Homo sapiens: one gene and its partner. The protein of the gene in region 1 purifies or fractionates together with the protein of each later gene. This does not show direct contact. Each region holds a gene or a part of one and is shown on either strand. Other genes may lie near its edges. The genes, in order: NPAP1 and ACACB.

Region 1 (3,913 bases):
AGCAAAGCAGTCCAGTTAAATAAACCAAAGAAACAAGATTAAAACTAGATAAGGTCATGTGTAGGATTTTCCAAATCTTTCTTGTCATGCTGAAACTTCCAGCTCTTAAAACAGTAACACATATTTCCTTTGTCCTAAAAACCAATATTAAGTCTCCTTCCTTGGGCATAAGAATATGGATAGTTATACTTAGGTGACAGTAATGTGTGGTAAAGAGTGGGCCTTGCTGGCATGCGGACAATGACCAAATTGTATTGATCATATTTTAATCGAATACATTGCTCCACTACTGACTTGCAAATACATGATGAATTTGCTTTCTAACATATTCCAAGAAGGCCAGAGAACTGGCTTATCCATTTGGATTAATCCACTGGTGAATTTCTTTCGGGATAGGCCAAAATGGATCTGGACTATAATCTTTACATATTTAGATCCTTCAAACTAGACCAAAAAGGAAATCTGGGCTGCAAGGCTCAATTAGAAGAACAGTGTGGGATGCTGCTTTGCTGACTATTGGGGGTCGCTGCCCCATGTCTTCAGAGGAGACTGGAGCCCAGTGCCTGCCATGACCAACTTATGAGGTGAAGTAAGGGCTTCCCCCTAGGAACGCATGTGCTTAATACAGATGTGCTGTGTGCTAGGTACCCTAAGGACTACAGGAAATAATGAGAATACATGATGTGTCCATAACAAGGAGGCACACAGGCCACGGCACCAGCTCTGGAATCACACAGCCCAGGTTCGAAGCCTGGCTAGGCCACTGTCATATCAATGACCCAAGGAGCAAGCAGCCTAAGGCTTAAATGTTGTTGCTGTTGTTTGTTGTGGTTTTTTGTTTTTGTTTTTGTTTGAGACAAGAGTTTTGCTCTGTTCCCCCAGGCTGGAGTGCAGTGAGGTGATCTCAGCTCACTGCAACCTCCACCTCCCGCTTTCAAGCGATTCTCCTGCCTCAGCCTCCCTAGTAGCTGGGATTACAAGTGCGTGCCACCACGCTCAGTTAATTTTTGTATTTTTAGTAGAGATGGGGTTTCACCATGGTGGTCAGGCTGGTCTCGAACTCCTGACCTCAGGTGATCCACCCGCCTTGGCCTCCCAAAGTGCTGGGATTAAAGGCGTGAGCCACCGCGCCCAGCCTTAAATGTTGTTTAAAACAAATTTGTGAAAAGAAGTGAAGAGGCCCTGCCTGCCAGGAAGAGATGTGGTAGGGCGTAGCATCTAGTCAGGACAAGGCACCACGTCCCCTCCTCGGAAACCCTCACGGCCTGGCTGGTGACCCTGGCGCCACAGAGACGGCACACCTGGCTCCAGGCAGCACAGAGCACTGCCAAGGTCCTAGAGGAGGCTGGCAGGATATAGGTTGTCCTGTGCTTAACTTGAAGCAGATGTGCCCTCTGTGAACCGGGGAATGGGGACGGCCGACACAGGGCCACTGCGTGCAACAGCGCCGGGCCAGGGCTAAGGAACAGGCAGAGCCGGCGCCCAGGTGACAAGAGCTCTGGCGATGGGCCCGCAGGCCCCAGCAGTTCCCTCATAGAGGCCACGCGGTGCAACACCTGCCACCGGCAGCGGGGCTTCCGGGGGTCCTGGGGCAGCTGGGGCCGACGGGGCGTCGCCCTTTGCCCTCTGACCCCTGCCTTTTGCGCCCCCGCTGGCGCTCCCTGGTTCTGTGAGGAACCTCGCGGCGGCGTCGCAGGCGTAGAGCCAGTCAGTTTGTGCTTGGTCGCCAGAGGAGGCGGTGGCTGAGGAGAGTTGAGTCCACTGCTGACCCTGTTTTACGGTAGGAGGCACGGCTAGCTCTAAATGGGCAATTTACTTAGTAAATTTAGACCCGGGTGCCGCCGCCGGCCCCTGCCAGGGCCAGGGCGTGGCGCCCCCGCTCCCCTGTCCCGGGACGCCTCCCCGCCCGGTCGGGCTCACTCTGTACCCACCCCGCGCCCTTTCCGCGGCCTGTTCCGCCGGAACGCCCGTCGCAGGCCTTCAGCAGCCAGCATCTTCGTCGCCCCTAAGAGGCCGTGTCCTCTCCCTCGGGCTGCGGCCGCCCCTCTGGGGGTCCTGCCGGCTGTGGGTTGGGGGCTGGCCATCAGGAAGACACCCATGCTGCCTGCTCGGAACCCCCCGAGGTTTGGACACCCCAGTTCCGTAAGGATCCCTCCTCCCAGCCGCATGTTCACTCTCCTGCTGCCTTCACCACGTGAGCCGGCGGTCAAGGCCAGGAAGCCCATCCCAGCCACTCTCCTGGAGGAGACCGAGGTGTGGGCCCAAGAAGGGCCCAGAAGAGTGAAGAAGGATGAGGATCCGGTGCAGATCGAAGGGGAGGATGACGAGAAAAGGACCCCCCTTAGCAGCGGAGAAGCATCGTCCACATCCAGGTCCCAGGGCACCCAGGGAGACGTGGCCTCCTTCAGATGCAGCCCTGGGCCTCTGGAGGGAAATGTCTACCACAAGTTCTCAGAAAACAGCATGAGTGAGAAGGCCCAGGCGTCTCCAGCGAGCTCCTGCTTGGAAGGCCCTGCCATGCCCAGCACACACAGCCAGGCCGGATGTGCCCGGCATCTTGGAAAGCCTGATCCGGATGCAACAGCGCCCCCTGAGCCAGCCGTTGGCTGCTCCCTGCTGCAGCAGAAGTTGGCTGCGGAAGTGCTGAATGAAGAGCCACCGCCCAGCTCCCTAGGCTTGCCGATTCCGCTGATGTCCGGAAAGAGGATGCCTGATGAGAAGCCTTTCTGTATTCCTCCAAGGAGCGCTGCTCCTCCCAGAGCTGCCCGCAACAGGCCCTGCAAAAGGAAAATGTCGATTCCATTGCTGCTGCCGCTGCCCCCTTCACTGCCATTGCTGTGGGATCGAGGTGAGCTTCCCCCACCTGCTAAGCTCCCCTGCCTGTCTGTTGAGGGAGACCTACACACCTTGGAGAAGAGCCCTGAGTATAAAAGGAATAGCAGAATCTTGGAGGATAAAACAGAGACCATGACAAACAGCAGCATCACCCAGCCTGCCCCTTCTTTCTCCCAACCTGTGCAGACCACAGACTCCCTGCCCCTGACCACTTACACTTCCCAGGTCTCAGCTCCTTTGCCCATCCCTGACTTGGCTGACCTGGCTACTGGACCCCTCATCCTGCCTATCCCTCCACTTTCCACCACACCAAAAATGGATGAGAAAATAGCATTCACAATCCCTAACTCTCCTCTGGCTCTTCCTGCTGACCTTGTTCCCATTTTGGGTGATCAGTCTAATGAGAAAGGAGGCTCTTATAATTCAGTCGTAGGAGCAGCGCCTCTCACTTCTGACCCCCCAACACCTCCTAGCTCCACACCCTCCTTCAAGCCTCCCGTCACAAGGGAGTCCCCAATATCTATGTGTGTGGATTCCCCTCCTCCTCTTTCCTTCCTGACTCTTCTTCCAGTCCCTTCCACCGGGACCTCAGTTATCACCAGCAAGCCTATGAATTCCACGTCAGTCATTTCCACTGTCACAACAAACGCATCTGCCCACCTAACCTCACAGACTGCGGTAGACCCTGAAGTAGTTAATATGGATACTACTGCCCCATCTCAGGTTGTTATTTTCACATCTTCCCTAAGCTCCAGAGTGAGCTCTCTCCCAAATTCCCAAATACATTGCAGTGCAGAGCAGAGGCACCCGGGAAAGACATCAGTCTACACATCCCCACTTCCATTTATATTCCACAATACCACCCCAAGTTTTAACCAACTCTTTGGAAAAGAAGCCACCCCTCAGCCCAAATTTGAGGCTCCTGATGGGCAGCCGCAGAAAGCTTCTCTCCCCAGTGCCTGTGTTTTCCTGAGCCTTCCCATCATTCCTCCTCCAGACACCTCCACTTTAGTGAACAGTGCCTCTACAGCATCATCATCCAAACCTCCCATTGAAACCAATGCTATGCATACCACTC
Region 2 (3,813 bases), on another chromosome or scaffold:
GAACACATGTTAATTCATGTATGTTATTAAAATGCTGCATGGACCAAAGTCATTCTGTGAGTGGCATTCAGCCACACTGCCACTGCAAGTTTGTGACCCCTGGATTGAGCTGTCGGGGAGCAGAGGGGCCATGATCGTGATTTCAGAGCACCCAACAGGAATGCACACACCTGTGTCAGGGTCCCCAAAAGCACCCCCAGGTTCGATCATCGCCTAGGAGAACTCACAGGTCTCGGGACATAGTCATGCTTATAGCTCTGACTTATTAGGGGGCAAGGATACAAAGCAGTTAGCCAAGGCAGAAGGCATCAGGGTGAAGTCCAGAGGAAAGCAGGTGTGCTGCCAGGGTCCTCTCCCAGTGGATTCACGCAGGGTGCACTTCATTCCCCCAGCAAGGAGTTGTGACAACACAAGTGAAGGGTTGTCTTCCAGCCCCGCACCAGGGATTGGTGGCTGGTCACATCACCCTCTGCTCTGCATCGAAATCTCAGGCTTGCAGAAGAAAGCAGGTGTTCAGCATAAACCACACTGTTTGTGCAAACAGTTGAGGCACAGTGAGCCCCCCTTGTCACCTTCAGGGAACGATAGGAACCTTCCCCAAGTCCAAGTTCCCAGAGGCCAGCCAAGGGCTGTCCTTGCAAGCAAGCAGGTCTCCTTTCTCAGAAGAGCAGTGTGGGGCCTGCTGTGCTGACTTCCTGCACACCATTTCATTACCCCTCCCGTATCTGATTCCAAGGCCCAATTCTAACAACCTCAGGTGGCCCATTGAGATTTGCTGCTGGTGAGCAGCCAGTTCTGGGAGCATCGTTGTCTAAACTCCAGAAGGCTGCTGACTTTGTCCCAAGGGCAAGTTTGATGGAGGGATTACAGGGAGCAGAGGACTGGAGTGTCCGTCAGGACCAAGCCTGACTGCCTCACCAGCTGCCTGGGGCTGGTGGATTTCTCCAGGAGAAATTGATGCTGGGAGTGTTTCTTCTCTGTGGTCAAGTTCAGCACTTGGGGCTCCCCTCGGGACTGTGTTGAGACTGGACTCTCATGCATGAATCATTGATTCCTACACTTGTTGAGCTCTTACTCTTCACCAGGTCCTGAGGGATCAGATGAGACCCTCCTCAGGCCCCGGCCCCAGCCATTGTCTCATCCCCTGCCCATTTTAAGCCCCCATTTGGAAGAGCTCTAAATCTGGTCCAGCTCACTGAAGCTTCAGGAGTAGGAGCAGCTCGTAGAGTTGGGTCTGCAAGCAGCTGCCTCATCCCCGACTTGCCATCACCTTACAGGATGACCGTGCCCATCAGCATCACCAACCCTGACCTGCTGAGGCACAGCACAGAGCTCTTCATGGACAGCGGCTTCTCCCCACTGTGCCAGCGCATGGGAGCCATGGTAGCCTTCAGGAGATTCGAGGACTTCACCAGGTACCCAGCATGGCCCGGTCTCCAACACCCTGAGCATGGGGGCTGGGCAGACTTCCCTTGAATCCCCCCCCAATTCACTGGACAGATGGGGTGGGAGAGACCCAGACACGTGGCACAGCATGTCAATAACAACAGAATAATAATAGCATTGTAGCCAAGAGTATGAGCCTACATGTCAGCTTGCCTGGCACAGCACATCAATAACAACAGAATAATAAGAGCATCGTAGCCAAGAGTGTGAGCCTGCGTGTCAGCTTGCCTGGTTTGAATTCTGGCTATGTGCTTTCTAACTAAGAGACTGAGCAAAATATTTTTACCTCTCCATACCTTCGTTTTCTTATCTGTAAAATGGGAATAATAAAGGACTCACTTCATAGGTGCGCCATGAGAATTAAATGAGATAACATATGTGAAATAACATATTTAAAGTATAATTAGTATGCAGATAATATAGTGACTAAATGTTAGCTCTCAATAGTTACTGTTATAGTCTTTTTTCAGCCTTTCACTGTGTGTTCTGCTTTGTGCTTGGAGTATCTTGTGGAATTTTCACAACAGCCTCATGAGGCATAGGGATTACTCTTATTACCTTTCTTTGACTCGGGGTGAGGTGAGGTTTCTAGGATCTCCCAGCCAGTAAAAATGGGAGCCAAGAGTTGATCTCAAGCCCAGCTGATGCCTGAAAGCGCTGGAATCCTTCCCTGTATTCCTGATCACAGATCACTTAGGTTCATTCTTCCCTTTTGGGAAGGACCCCATCACGGGTGCTCTGGACAAAGTAGACAGGGAACCTCCTGAGCTCTGTAGAGTTGGATAAGATCAAAGGGTGTTGGCTGGGAAATTGGGAGGGTCTGGCGTTCCCTGCTGCCTGGCTTGGAAGCTTGACCTCATCCCCATGGGTCAGCAGCCCCTCAGCCCTCCCTCTCTACCCGCACCCCCAGAAATTTTGATGAAGTCATCTCTTGCTTCGCCAACGTGCCCAAAGACACCCCCCTCTTCAGCGAGGCCCGCACCTCCCTATACTCCGAGGATGACTGCAAGGTAAGCGTCTAAGCCCAGGGAGCAACCTGGGGAGCAGGTGGGCCGTGGCCCCCAGGCTTTCCAGCCCTACCCCTTGCTTCTCCCTCTCAGAGCCTCAGAGAAGAGCCCATCCACATTCTGAATGTGTCCATCCAGTGTGCAGACCACCTGGAGGATGAGGCACTGGTGCCGATTTTACGGACATTCGTACAGTCCAAGGTACTCTGGGCGTGCCTCTGGTTTTGGTGGGGGTTCTTGGAGAAGGAGGAGGGGCTGGGCTCGTCGAGGCGGCCCTTGGGGAGGCAGGCGTGCTGAGTACTTCAGAGCCACAGACCTGGCTTCCCACTCTAGCTCTGCTCGCCTCATAGCTGGCGACCTTGGGCAGATGTGGCTGAACGTGGGGTCAGCATTTCTCTCGCTCACGGTGTTGCAATGATTCAATGACAAAGTATATACACGGCTTAGCCAGTCCCAGGTACGGAGGGCACACCCAATAAATAGTTTGGAGATTTTCTGGGAGTGTTTTTGTTGGAATAATCCAGAAACTGGCAGTTTTAAAATGGCTACTTACATTGATGACCAAGTGTGCCAATAACAGCAGGTTGCTCTGTAAGCCTGTGATGCCATTGTATTTCAGCCTGGGGGACAGAGCGAGACCCTGTCTCAAAAAAAATTATATATATTTACAGTATACAATGTGATATTTTTTAATTATCTTTTTAATAACAGCTTTATTGAGACATCATTGACATACTACACAATTCACCCATTTAAAGTGTGCAGTTTTGCAGCCATAAAAAAGAATGAGATCATGTCCTTTGCGGGGACATGGATGAAGCTGGAAGCCATCATCCTCAGCAAACTAACACAAGAACAGAAAACCAAACACCGCATGTGCTCACTCATAAGTGGGAGCTGAACATTGAGAACACATGGGCAGAGGGAGGGTAACAACGCACACCGGGGCCTGTCGGGGGGTGGGGGCCGAGGGGAGGGAACTTAGAGGACAGGTCGGTAGGTGCAGCAAACCACCATGGCACATATATACCTGTGTAACAAGCCTGCACGTTCTGCACATGTATCCTGTTTTTTTTTTTAGAAGAAATAAGAAAAAAAGTGTACAATTTAATATATTTTTAGTATATTCACCAGGTTGTACAACCATCACCAGAATCAATTTTAGGACATTCTCATCACTCCATAGAAAAACCCTGTACCTGTTAGCAGTCACTCCCCTCTGTCCCCAACCCAAAAACCCTCTCCCCACCACAGCCCTAGGCAACCACTAATCTACTTTCTCTCTATATAGATTTGCCTATTCTGGACGTTTCATATAAATGGAATCAGATCACAGGAGGTCTCTTATGATTGACATCTT

The links.
Region 2: the proteins of NPAP1 (region 1) and ACACB purify together in Homo sapiens (affinity purification with mass spectrometry; one large-scale study listed by BioGRID and IntAct). This does not show direct contact.

Annotation. Positions count from the first base shown.
Region 1 is NC_000015.10:24,674,065-24,677,977, forward strand, and holds the start of NPAP1 (nuclear pore-associated protein 1), read left to right. Parts: upstream 1-1,710; 5' UTR 1,711-1,803; coding exon 1,804-3,913. UniProt on the Homo sapiens protein: May be involved in spermatogenesis.
Region 2 is NC_000012.12:109,231,392-109,235,204, forward strand, and holds part of ACACB (acetyl-CoA carboxylase 2), read left to right. Parts: intron 1-1,277; coding exon 1,278-1,415; intron 1,416-2,356; coding exon 2,357-2,456; intron 2,457-2,546; coding exon 2,547-2,654; intron 2,655-3,813. UniProt on the Homo sapiens protein: Mitochondrial enzyme that catalyzes the carboxylation of acetyl-CoA to malonyl-CoA and plays a central role in fatty acid metabolism.